Regions from separate parts of the Homo sapiens genome. Here region 2 is linked to region 1. The links come from fine-mapping of genetic effects on gene expression. Tissue or cell type: whole blood. Region 1 holds a variant in brackets; the other region holds the start of a gene. All regions are shown on one strand. Distances are between the middles of the regions.

What was found. PIP is the estimated chance that this variant, and not a neighbour inherited with it, causes the effect.
Region 2: it holds the start of NEO1, and the variant in region 1 is fine-mapped to the expression of NEO1 in whole blood (INTERVAL, PIP 0.96).

The regions. Positions count from the first base shown.
Region 1 is chr15:72,972,036-72,977,183 of GRCh38, reverse strand. No RefSeq gene overlaps it. Among named protein-coding and RNA genes, the nearest start is that of NEO1, 78 kb to the left of the region's middle. The variant T/A (reference allele first, on the strand shown) is at 2,196.
Region 2 is chr15:73,050,205-73,055,352 of GRCh38, reverse strand. It overlaps NEO1 (neogenin 1), which reads right to left and starts at 2,890. Exons shown (of 29, transcript NM_002499.4): 1 at 2,548-2,890. The coding sequence starts at 2,677. RefSeq lists silencers at 2,571-2,950, 3,181-3,500, 3,591-3,660, 3,721-3,770.

The sequences.
Region 1 (5,148 bases):
GACCCTGGAACTTCAAGAAGGCTGTATAGTTTCAAGGTCATCCTAAACAGCTGCTTTGTCCCAAGCATGTCTGATCAGTTGAACCAGTCAGTATAGGCTAGCTTATATTGTGATAAAAATGATCCTCAAATCTTGGCCGCTTATAGCAAACTAGGTTTATTTGGTAATGCTACTCATCCAGTGGGGGTCAGAAGGGCTCACCTCTGTGCTCCTTACTCTGAGACCCAGGTTGACAGAGTAGCAGCCATTTCAAACATTACCAGTTGTCATGTCAAAGGGACAGAGAGAGATCATGGTCAGCAGAGGAGTGTCTTGCCCAGCAATTAAATACTTGGGCATAGAAATAACTTCTGTCACTTCTACTCACAATTCGTTGGCAAAGCTAGCAGATGGCTCCACCCAAACCCAATGGGATCAGGAAAGGCAATTTTACCATGAGCCTGGAGAACCGAGAATATTTAGTGAATAGCACTAATAATCACTGCACTTACTGTCTTCTACTAATTCCTGATATGAATGGAGGCTGTGTGCCCACCAGGGCCACTTTTGTATGTCCTAGGAATGATCTGAGCTGATCCAAATGCTAGTGTCAGGTAGAAGCAAATGGCAGCCCTGCATCATCACCATGTTGGCTCCTGACAGGCCTGGTTCATCCTGAGCTGCTCACTGTAAAGAAAGTCCCCGGGAAATGGCAAGGAATTGATATGCCTTTGAACTCCTGCAAACCTGGGTATGAGCCTCTGGAAATCAGCCTTATACTTGACAAGTTCTGTTCCAATATGGCTCAAAGGTTGCAAATTTGCGTGGTTCCTATCCAGGTGGGCTATGAGGGTATTTGCATGGCCCATTGATACCAAGACACTGAAGTGAAGCTGGCAGAGCTATGGGACTCATGCCAGCTACATCTAATTATCAGCAGGAAATAAAAACATGAACATAAGGTGAGCAACAATACCAAGCTCTCATGTATGCCTCCCCTCCAACCCTTGCCACCCGCCTTAAACTCCACAGGTAAGACTCCAAGCATCCTATAGGTGAAAGGTTCCACCAGCACTCCCCATTACCCTGCTGCTGTTGTGGGTGCTTGGCAGATACAACCACCTGGACTACGACCATTTGAAGCAGGTGGTGTATTGGGCCTATGGAACCAGAGTCTGTCTCACAAATTTGGAATGGGATGGATTTTAACCAAAATCTCCTTGCATTTTGGTGAGAAGCCAGAAACACTCTCTGGCTCAGAGAGGAAATTTAGGTGGTAGGTAAAAGGCTCTAGTACAGCTGGTTAATTCCTTTCCCTATGTTTCTTATAGGTGGACACAAGGCCCACCTGACTGGGTCCCCAAGCGCCATGTTTCATGATGGCATTCAAAGGGGGGTTGTGCCCATCTCTATACCCCTCCTTGCATTCTCTCTGCAGTTGCCTGCTTGGGTGGAAAAATAAAGAAGCTACTATACTCCTGCCACTGCTTCTCCTCATACACCTAGTGAGGCAACCCTAGTCCCAGCTTGGGCTGGATAGCAGATGCAGCCAATAGCCAGTGATGCTTTTGAGTGTGTGGCTGCAGTACTGGTCAGTTTACTGTGGCTCACTCGTCAGATGCAAGTGGCTGGTCTGTCCCTGTCCCAGAGCCCTCGCTGCTTGATATTATCTGCTTGAGTGGGTCTCCCTCATTCCTGACAACTCTTGAGTAGACTACTGACAGCTTGTGTGAGAAGACTCACCTCTGTGTCCCCCATCAGGCGTGGGCAAGCAAGTTGTGAAATCACCCAGCTGCAGCCTACAATTCTCTACAGTTGCAAGGAATCCTGGGTAGCAGGACTGTTGTTCCAGGGCAGGTGTGAGCAGTAGTGGTGCTGCAACTAGAGCCATCATGGTCAGTGGGCAAGGATGGTGGCACAAGGTGAGCAGCTGGGCTCTGGCCTCACTGCTGTCCTTAGCTGGTGAAGACCTCTCTGCATGGAGGATTCTCTGCTTTCTTCCTCCTCAGGATCAAGACTGAGTACCTTCAAAACGGAGGATAGATCTTCTTTATCATGCAACCAGTAGGACAGCCCTGGAAGTGTGGGTTCCTACCTACATGGCTTAAGCATCATGTAGATAGGCCACACTACACCGGTGTGAGGTGCAGCTCTGGACTCTGCATGGGTGGCTTCTAAAACAACTGAATGGAAATGTTTTCTGAGTTACTCAAATT[T/A]ATCTAGATTTTCCCATTGGTAAATGCAAAACCTATATTGCATTGAAGCAGGGCCAATATCTTGGCTGGCAAATGGATTTTAAAATATCTTTGAAGAAGTGAACACAGAGGGCCCAGGGAAGGTTGAGGGGTAACTCCGTTTCCTCCTGTAGAATCTACCTTGAGGTCTGAGGGACACTGGCCACAAAGCACTTTCATATTCTGGCTGTGTGGCCTAAGATTTCCCAGGGATAAGTGATATAAAGGTGACCAATTGATCAATGGAGGAAATTTCTCTTTATAGAAGCAGTCTAGCTAATAAATGAAGAGAATGATAGAATGTCACTATTTTATAACACTTAATGATATACATGAAATAGATTTAGACAATGGCACTCAAAGGCTGGTAATATCACACACACAAAATTGACATTATATGCTCTCTGATGAAAGAACACACCACTACCTATAAAGCATTATTGTAAAAAAAAAAAAAAAATCAAACCTGAATTCAACAAATCTCGTCATCTAATTACCAATTAAAAAACAGGGACAGAGGAATGTGTTAAAAAAATACCACAGGGACTGGTGATCCGCAAAATTTAGGCTATGGGAAACTATAGTTCAATAACTTAGTTTATTTAATAAATTTTGAAAGCAAAAGAAAACCTATATGAAGAAAAGACTTAAAGCCACATAAACTGATTATAATGTATGGACATTATTTGGATCCTGACTTGAACTAATGTAAAAATAAATGGAGACACTGAGGACATTTTAACACTGGCCAGATATTTGGAGACATTAGGAATTATTCTTATTGTTAGGTATAATAATGGAATTGTTATATCCAAAAGAGTCCTTATCTTTTGGAGCTATATGCTAAACTAATTACAGATTACATGATATCTGAAATTTGCTTCAAGATCGTCCAGGTAGAGCAAGAGGTAAGGAGTGAAGGTAAAAGCAGCTGGGCATGTAATTGAAATAAGTCTATTTGGGAGGCCGAGGAGGGCGGATCACCTGAGGTCCGGAGTTCGAGACCAGCCTGGCCAACGTGGTGAAACCCCATCTCTACTAAAATACAAAAATTAGCCAGGCGTGGTGGTGTGTGCCTGTAATCCCAGCTACTCAGGAGGCTGAGGCAGGAGAATCATTTGAACCTGGGAGGTGGAGGTTGCAGTGAGCTGAGATCACACCATTGCACTCCAGCCTGTGTGACAGAGCGAGACTTCATCTCAAAAAAAGTGTGGCTGTGAGTTGACCATTGTTGGAGTTGGGTGATGGGTAAAGGGGGCATCATATTATTCTCTCTACTTTTGTATATGCTTGAAATTTTCCAGAAGAAGAGGAGGAGGAAGTGTGTGGAGAGAGAGAGAGAGAAAGAGAATATAAATCGGATTGTAAGGCAGGCGGTCAGGCAGAGGAGACTGGCAGCAGGGGTGGAGTAGAGGGCTGTGAACTGATGAGAAGATCAAGGGGTCAGACTCCAGGGGTCAGTGTCTGGGGCCTTCCATGCATAAGACTCACCTGATTGGAAGTTCTCCTCCCACCTTTTCCTGGACTGTACCCCCAAACCAATATGTCTCAGAGTCTGAACAGTAAGAGGCTGCCACCAGCACTTCTGATTCAAAATAAGAATAACTAACTACCTGTCCCCCTGGAAATTACCAGCATGCTTCTCCTTCTCAGGTGGGGAATGTCTGGTTCTTCCTTTGACCAAGGGCAGTATTTCTAGTACTGTGTTCTCAGAAGAATCAGTCACAGGCCAAGCATGGTGTCTCACGCCTGTAATCCCAGCACTTTGGGAGGCTGAGGCAGGTGGATCACCTGAGGTCGGGAGTTCGAGACCAGCCTGGCCAACGTGGCAAAACCCCGTCTCTACTAAAAATACAAAAGTTAGCCAGGTGTGGTGGTGTGTGCTTGTAATCCCAACTACTTGGGAGGCTGAGGCAGGAGAATCACTTGAACCCAGGAGATGGGGGTTGCAGTGAGCTGAGATCACACCACTACACTCCAGCCTGGGTGACAGAGCGAGCCTCTGTCTCAAAAAAATAAAAAATAAAATAAATAAATAAAAAAAATTAGTCATATATCCAGAAAGATTCTCAGTAGGACTGAGGGCAGCTCAGGCCCCTTAATAAAAACTATTTGAAATGCAGGGAATTGTGAGAAGGAAAATCAAAGCCTAAGACTGAACCAGCAATTAGATCAGCTCCTGGAATATATTTAAGTCAAATCAATCCATGAGGGAATTTCCGTCACAGCTCACTTTCCCTCTCCTACAGCCCATGGCTGGAATCATAGCCTTTCAATCAGAGCTCACCAGAAATACAGCAATATCCATCTTCTAAAATGCTTCATCATAGTTTTGCAAAGTCCCGGTACATCCCCTCTGCTCTTGTGGATTTATTTACATATTGATTTATTTATTCCTCTCTCTACAGCAGGCTAGCCTCTTGAGATTATACCATTTCATTTACAAAGCCATTGGGGTCATGCATCTGGACAACGAAGCCAAGGGGAAGGCTGTCCTTGGATGTGCTGAGCTACACAGATCAGACTTGTCAGAAACAAGTGTGGGAAGTGGGTGCAAAGAGTCAGCCTCCAGCCTGGGACTCCCATAGTCATCTTACCACAAAAAGAGAGGGCTGGCTTACACCGAAGGGAAGAAAACAGCATGGGAGGTGACAGAAAAAGCAGCAAGGAAGCCCTGGGTGTGACCTCTATGAATCCCTCCAGTTGAGGAGTGGGGTCTCCCTACTGCAATCCCAAATGGTGCAGTGCCCCTATCAGCAGGCAGTTACCTTCATCTCTTTCCAGGGCCTGAACAGTACAGACCCCTCGGGCTCCCCACAGATTACTTCTCAGCCGGAGGAGGCTCCGCTAAGAGAGAAGAGAAAGAAGAAGAAAGAAAAAAGAATGCACAGGAAAAAGGTCTGGAAGAAACTGAGTTGAGGGAGAGAAATCTGTT
Region 2 (5,148 bases), 78 kb before region 1:
ACAGAAGTTATTCAACACAGAAATGGACTACCCTGTAAGGCAATGAATCACATCATGAAATAAATGGTTCAGGCAGAAGCTACAGAGTCCTCGGTGAAGAATGTTCACTCTAAATAGAGAAGACATGCATTGCACAGGCTGCTGCCATGTCATCTTCCCCAAGGTCTCTACATATCTTTTCAGTAATCTGCCCTTTTTCAGAATACCAGATTATGTTCCTACTCAATTCCAACCCTCCTCCCTTGCTGACCATTTTCTATCACCAGTCCTTTACTTCTTACTTTTTCCTCCACCTCCGTATGTCTATAACCTCAGATGGAAAAACACTTTCCATTTATCCTATTGTCCCACATCTCTATTTTTCTCCACCTTCTACTACTGAACATGTCCACTTCCCTACAATCTATTCACTATAATCCCCTATAAAAAGATTTATAAGTCTATCACTCTACAAAAATAAAAAAAATAAAACTACTGACAAAGGACATCTGATTTGCGGACAGCTTGTTCCAGTTGCTGCTTACTCAGTTCTCCAGTCTCTTGATCTCTTCCGCAGTTTTATGGCAGAACTGACCAACCCCTCCTTATTGCAGTTATTCCTCTCGCTTTTGTAATGAAGCAGAGCGGTTTACAGGAAGGACTCTGGACCGAGAATCAGGAGATCTATGTTCTAGACCCAATTAAACGACTAATTACCTGTGAGCCTCCCCACCTCCACTCCTACCCACTCCTCAGATCTCAGTTCTTGTGAGACACTCTTAACACCCAGACTAGGTTATGTCACTCCAGTACCCACTTTGTGAAAACCTATTCTCCTTTGTAGTGCTTATCACAATTACTTAATTATATAATCAGTAGATGGATGGCTATCTTTCCTACCCACACACCAGACTGTAAACTCCATGAAGGCAGAGAGCATATGCCTTGCACCTCATCTGTGCAAAATAAAAACCTGTCAATTGAGTTAATGTTGAAACAGATGTTAAGACCACTTCCTGAGACTGCTTGCATTATTTTTATTATCCTAAGTAATAAAATTACTAGCATTTTAGTTACTTACAAAATTATCGGCAAAACTTTAAACAAAAACTTGAAATTTGGTGAACTACATATGAATTTCCATATAAAATAGATCATGAGTAACAGGAACTTGTTTTCCAAAATAGTTATATTTCTCTTGCTCATCTAAGAGACAGTTGGATCAGTAACCTGCATTTCAGCACCAAAATGTGTTCTAAACCATATACGGACTGAATGTATAAGGGTACATCATGACATAAGTGATGTTTAATTTGACATTAAAACACTATTGTTTACGTAGCTGTTTAGAGAATACCGAGTGGTACTTTACGTTTAAAGCTGTTCTTTAACATTGGCAAAAGCCATGAGCTACATACACACTCTGCAAGGAAATGAAAAGTTTATCAGTCAAGTTACCTTGCAGTGTGATTTTAAATATTATTTCATATAAATCAGGGAAAAACAAGTACTGGTTCAGCGGTAAGACTGCTTTCAAATGTAAAAATATCATATCTCACACGAGTGAAAGTTTTGTCAAGTTTTATGGTACACCACCTTGGTCAAATAATTTTAACAGATTACATGCTAATTTGCCTTTCAACTGCTGAGTGTATCCTGCTCAACAATACCGTAAGGTCCTTCCCGGAAGGCTTGGCATTTTTGTTCGTTGGTCCCCTTAATAGGAATGCAGGTGGTTTCAGTAATCTATAATATTCCAAAAAAGAACTGAAAATGGCTTTTGAGGTTCAATGTTTATACAATGCCATCTGAAAACATTGTACAAGTACCTAAAATCTGATGCTTAGACAATTCCCTTGGTTAAGAGTGGTTAATAGGCTGTAAATATAGTTGTAATCCCCAGGAAAGAAGAGGCATTTCATAACGGAAACACTAACAGATACGATCACTCCGAGCCGCTCTCCAAGGCGTCCTCATCGTTAAATCAACACCAGGGGTTGTGAGCGGGCAATTGTGCCCCTCTGACACCCCCGCTCTTCCGCAGACTCGGGCTCCAATCCCCGCGCGAGGAGTCCCTCGAGACTAGCCAGCTCTTCCTCGAGACTTCGGAAGCTGGGAAATCCCTGGCCAGGGAACCAGGAGCTCAAGCCCCCTCCCCTTTCCTTTCCTGAAAATTAATGAATTGGCCGTCTGATTGTTTATTTAATGAGGTGTGTAGTGGCCTCTACTGGTGCTAGTGTGAGCACAAGAATGTCCCACTCTTACAAGTGGGATGAGCCTGGGGGAGGGGAGAGAGGCGAGGGGTGAACCTGCCTCCAGGTACAAAGCTGGGAACTAGACCCCTGCGCCCCCGACCTGCCCCCCGGCAGCCGCCCCTTCCCCGGTGGCGCCCCCTCTCGCCCTTCTCCTCCCCACCACGCGCGATCCCCTTTCTCTTCGGCAACCGGAGCCGAGGCAGAGAAGTTCCTGCACGTTTCCTCCTGGATCCTAAACAAAAACACCGCAGCCGCGGCCGCCTGAGCCGGTGCCGCGCCCCCGCGAACCCCCGGGCCCGCGCCCGCCGCTTACCTGGGGACTGCGGCGCGGAGCCGCTCCTGGCGGCCGCGGCGCCCGGCGCCCGGCGCCCGAGCAGCAGCAGGCAGTAGAGCCAGAAGGAGGGGGTGCTGAGGAGTCGCCGGGCTCCCCGCTCCGCCGCCATCTCTTCCCCGAGAGTGAGCGGCAGCGGCGGCGACAGCGCCGCGGAGCCCTTGCCTCCTTCCCTCCCGCGCGCCTCAGCCGGTCCCTCGCTGCAAGCTCGGCTCCCGCGGCCGCCGCTGCTCCAGCCCAGCCCGGCCCGGCCCGGCCCGCGCAGCCCCTCTCGCTGGAGGGGAGACTCCAGGGCGCCTCCCTCCTGCAAGGGGGCGGGGAGGGGAGGAGAGCGAAGAAGGGGAGTCAGTACATTCCGGGGCGGGGGGGGGGGGGCGGTGGGTCGGTCTCCAGGTTCCAGGCGCCGCCACCCGCCGCCGACTCCGGCTCCACACACCAGCGCGAGGGGGGCGGAGACCGCGGACGGCGGGGGCGGGGGCGGGGGCGGGGGGCGGGAGTCCCGGGCGCGCACACGCGCACGCGCGCGCCTCGCCCGCACCCCCTCGGCTCCGCGCGCGGCCCGCCCCCGCTCCAATCCCGGCTGCCGCCTCTCGGGCCGTGGCGGGCCCGCTCCCCTCCCCCTTCTCCCCGGAGCCGCTGACGGGTGCGGGGCGCGCGCGCCGGGCGCTGCTGCTGGCGTCAGGGAAACCCCGGAGAAGCGGATCCTCCTGCTCCTCCCGCCCGCTCGCCGCAGCCCCTCGGCTCCGCGCGCCCCCGCCTCCTCCTCCTCGCCTCGGGGACAAATTCCCCCCTCACCTCCCCAGATGCCTCTGGCTGCAGAGACCTGAGGGCGAGAGGCGCTCCGAGCTCAGGCTGGTCCGGGAGGCCGGCGTGGGCGCGCACCTCTGCACAGTCCGGGCCTGGAGCCTCTATATAGGGCCTCAGAGGAAACCGAAAGGCCTCCGGGAGGAAACCTGGGTGCGCAGTGGGTCGGCCCGGGGATTTATGTGCTCGCCAAAAACAATAGCGATCCCGCCCGACTCTTGCTGGGCCCTGGCGCGGCTCCCGTGGGAGGGGGCCGGCCGCGCAGCCGCTGACCTCCGGCTCCCAAGCCGGGCCGCCGTCGCCGCGCGCTTCCCCCGGGCAGCGCCGGGACCCGCCCGAACCGCGCCCCCACCCGCATCGCTCGGCCCGGGTCCAGGGAACTAGGCACAGACAAAGGTGCCCGCTGTCCACTTCCTCAGCTCGTGCGGGGGCCCCGACCGAGCCCTGGGACTCCCCGGGGCCAGTCTTCTCGCAGTAACTGCTACGTTTTACCTGTACCTTTGCGGGACACTTGGCGTTTTCCTACCTGGGAATCACGTCTTTCGCTGATAAACCAAGGAGCAAGTGGGATATGATTTTAAACCACTTAGTAATCGTGAGGCAGCACCCAGGCTACACAAAGTTAGGAGAAAGCAGTTTGTAGTTCCACTGCTGATGAGACTATTGATCATTTTATATACTGCACCCATGAAAAATTTTTAAAGAAAATTTATTTGTATGATTATGCAAGCAGAGTCACGTTTGGTGGTTGATAGGCGTTGGGTTTTATTCACTCTTCTGTGTAGTCGATAACCGAAATGTCTTGCTTCCCACAAGAAAATGGCTATTTCACTAACATATCCCTCTGTGCTTTCTCATAGTTACTTTCCAAAGATATTTTATTCTAAAGCGCCAAAATGAACAATGTAAGACATGGATTAACGTCGGGAGGGAAGAGCTCAGAATCTTCATAAAACCTTAAATCATCAAAACGGTGAAATTAGGAATTCTCATGCTAGTTCTTTGAAACAATTGACTTAATAGAGGAAACACATGCTTATGGTTTTTCACTAGGGAAACCATTTAAATACCTTTTTGTTTTGGTTAGAGTTGTTAACCAGCAAAAATATTTCCTAAATACCCGTGATTGACCTGTTAAATTAGAAATAGATTACCTCCCAATTACTTCACAAGTATTTGCTTAATTAACCTTTAATAATCACATCATTATTCAGTTTTCTGAGATAATTAATGAGAAAAGCTCTTTGAAAACTGTAAATTGCCTTGCAAATGTTAATTTCCTGATATCTTTTCTAAGTCTGGAAAAATTTCATTATATTAAACCTATAACGTGTAATATGACTTCTGAGATGAAGCTTACATTTATCTCCAAGTTTTGAAAAATACATGAGTTGTGGCTAATAACAGACTGATTTTCATATATGACTTATATGAACTGTCTCACTAATTTATCAGCCCACTGTGTATATCAGGTTAATATCAAAAAGTTTAAAACAGTTGTATATTTCTGGCTTCTGATTAAATCACAATTTTAATAAAACCCACTCTATTAAACCACTAGTAGATGGAGCCCCAGATTAAAGCTACAGATCCTAAATCAGTTCAAGATAGTTAAGTAACTCAGGCACACACTTGAATTCAGCTCCTTTACTTTGTTTCAAAGTCACTGACACTGTCGACATGCCCTTTAAAAATCATCATTGAGTAATTAACCTGTTCTTTGTTTAGTAAAGCATATCTGAGAAAAGATTTTCTTAGGCATCTCTTTTATCATTCTTA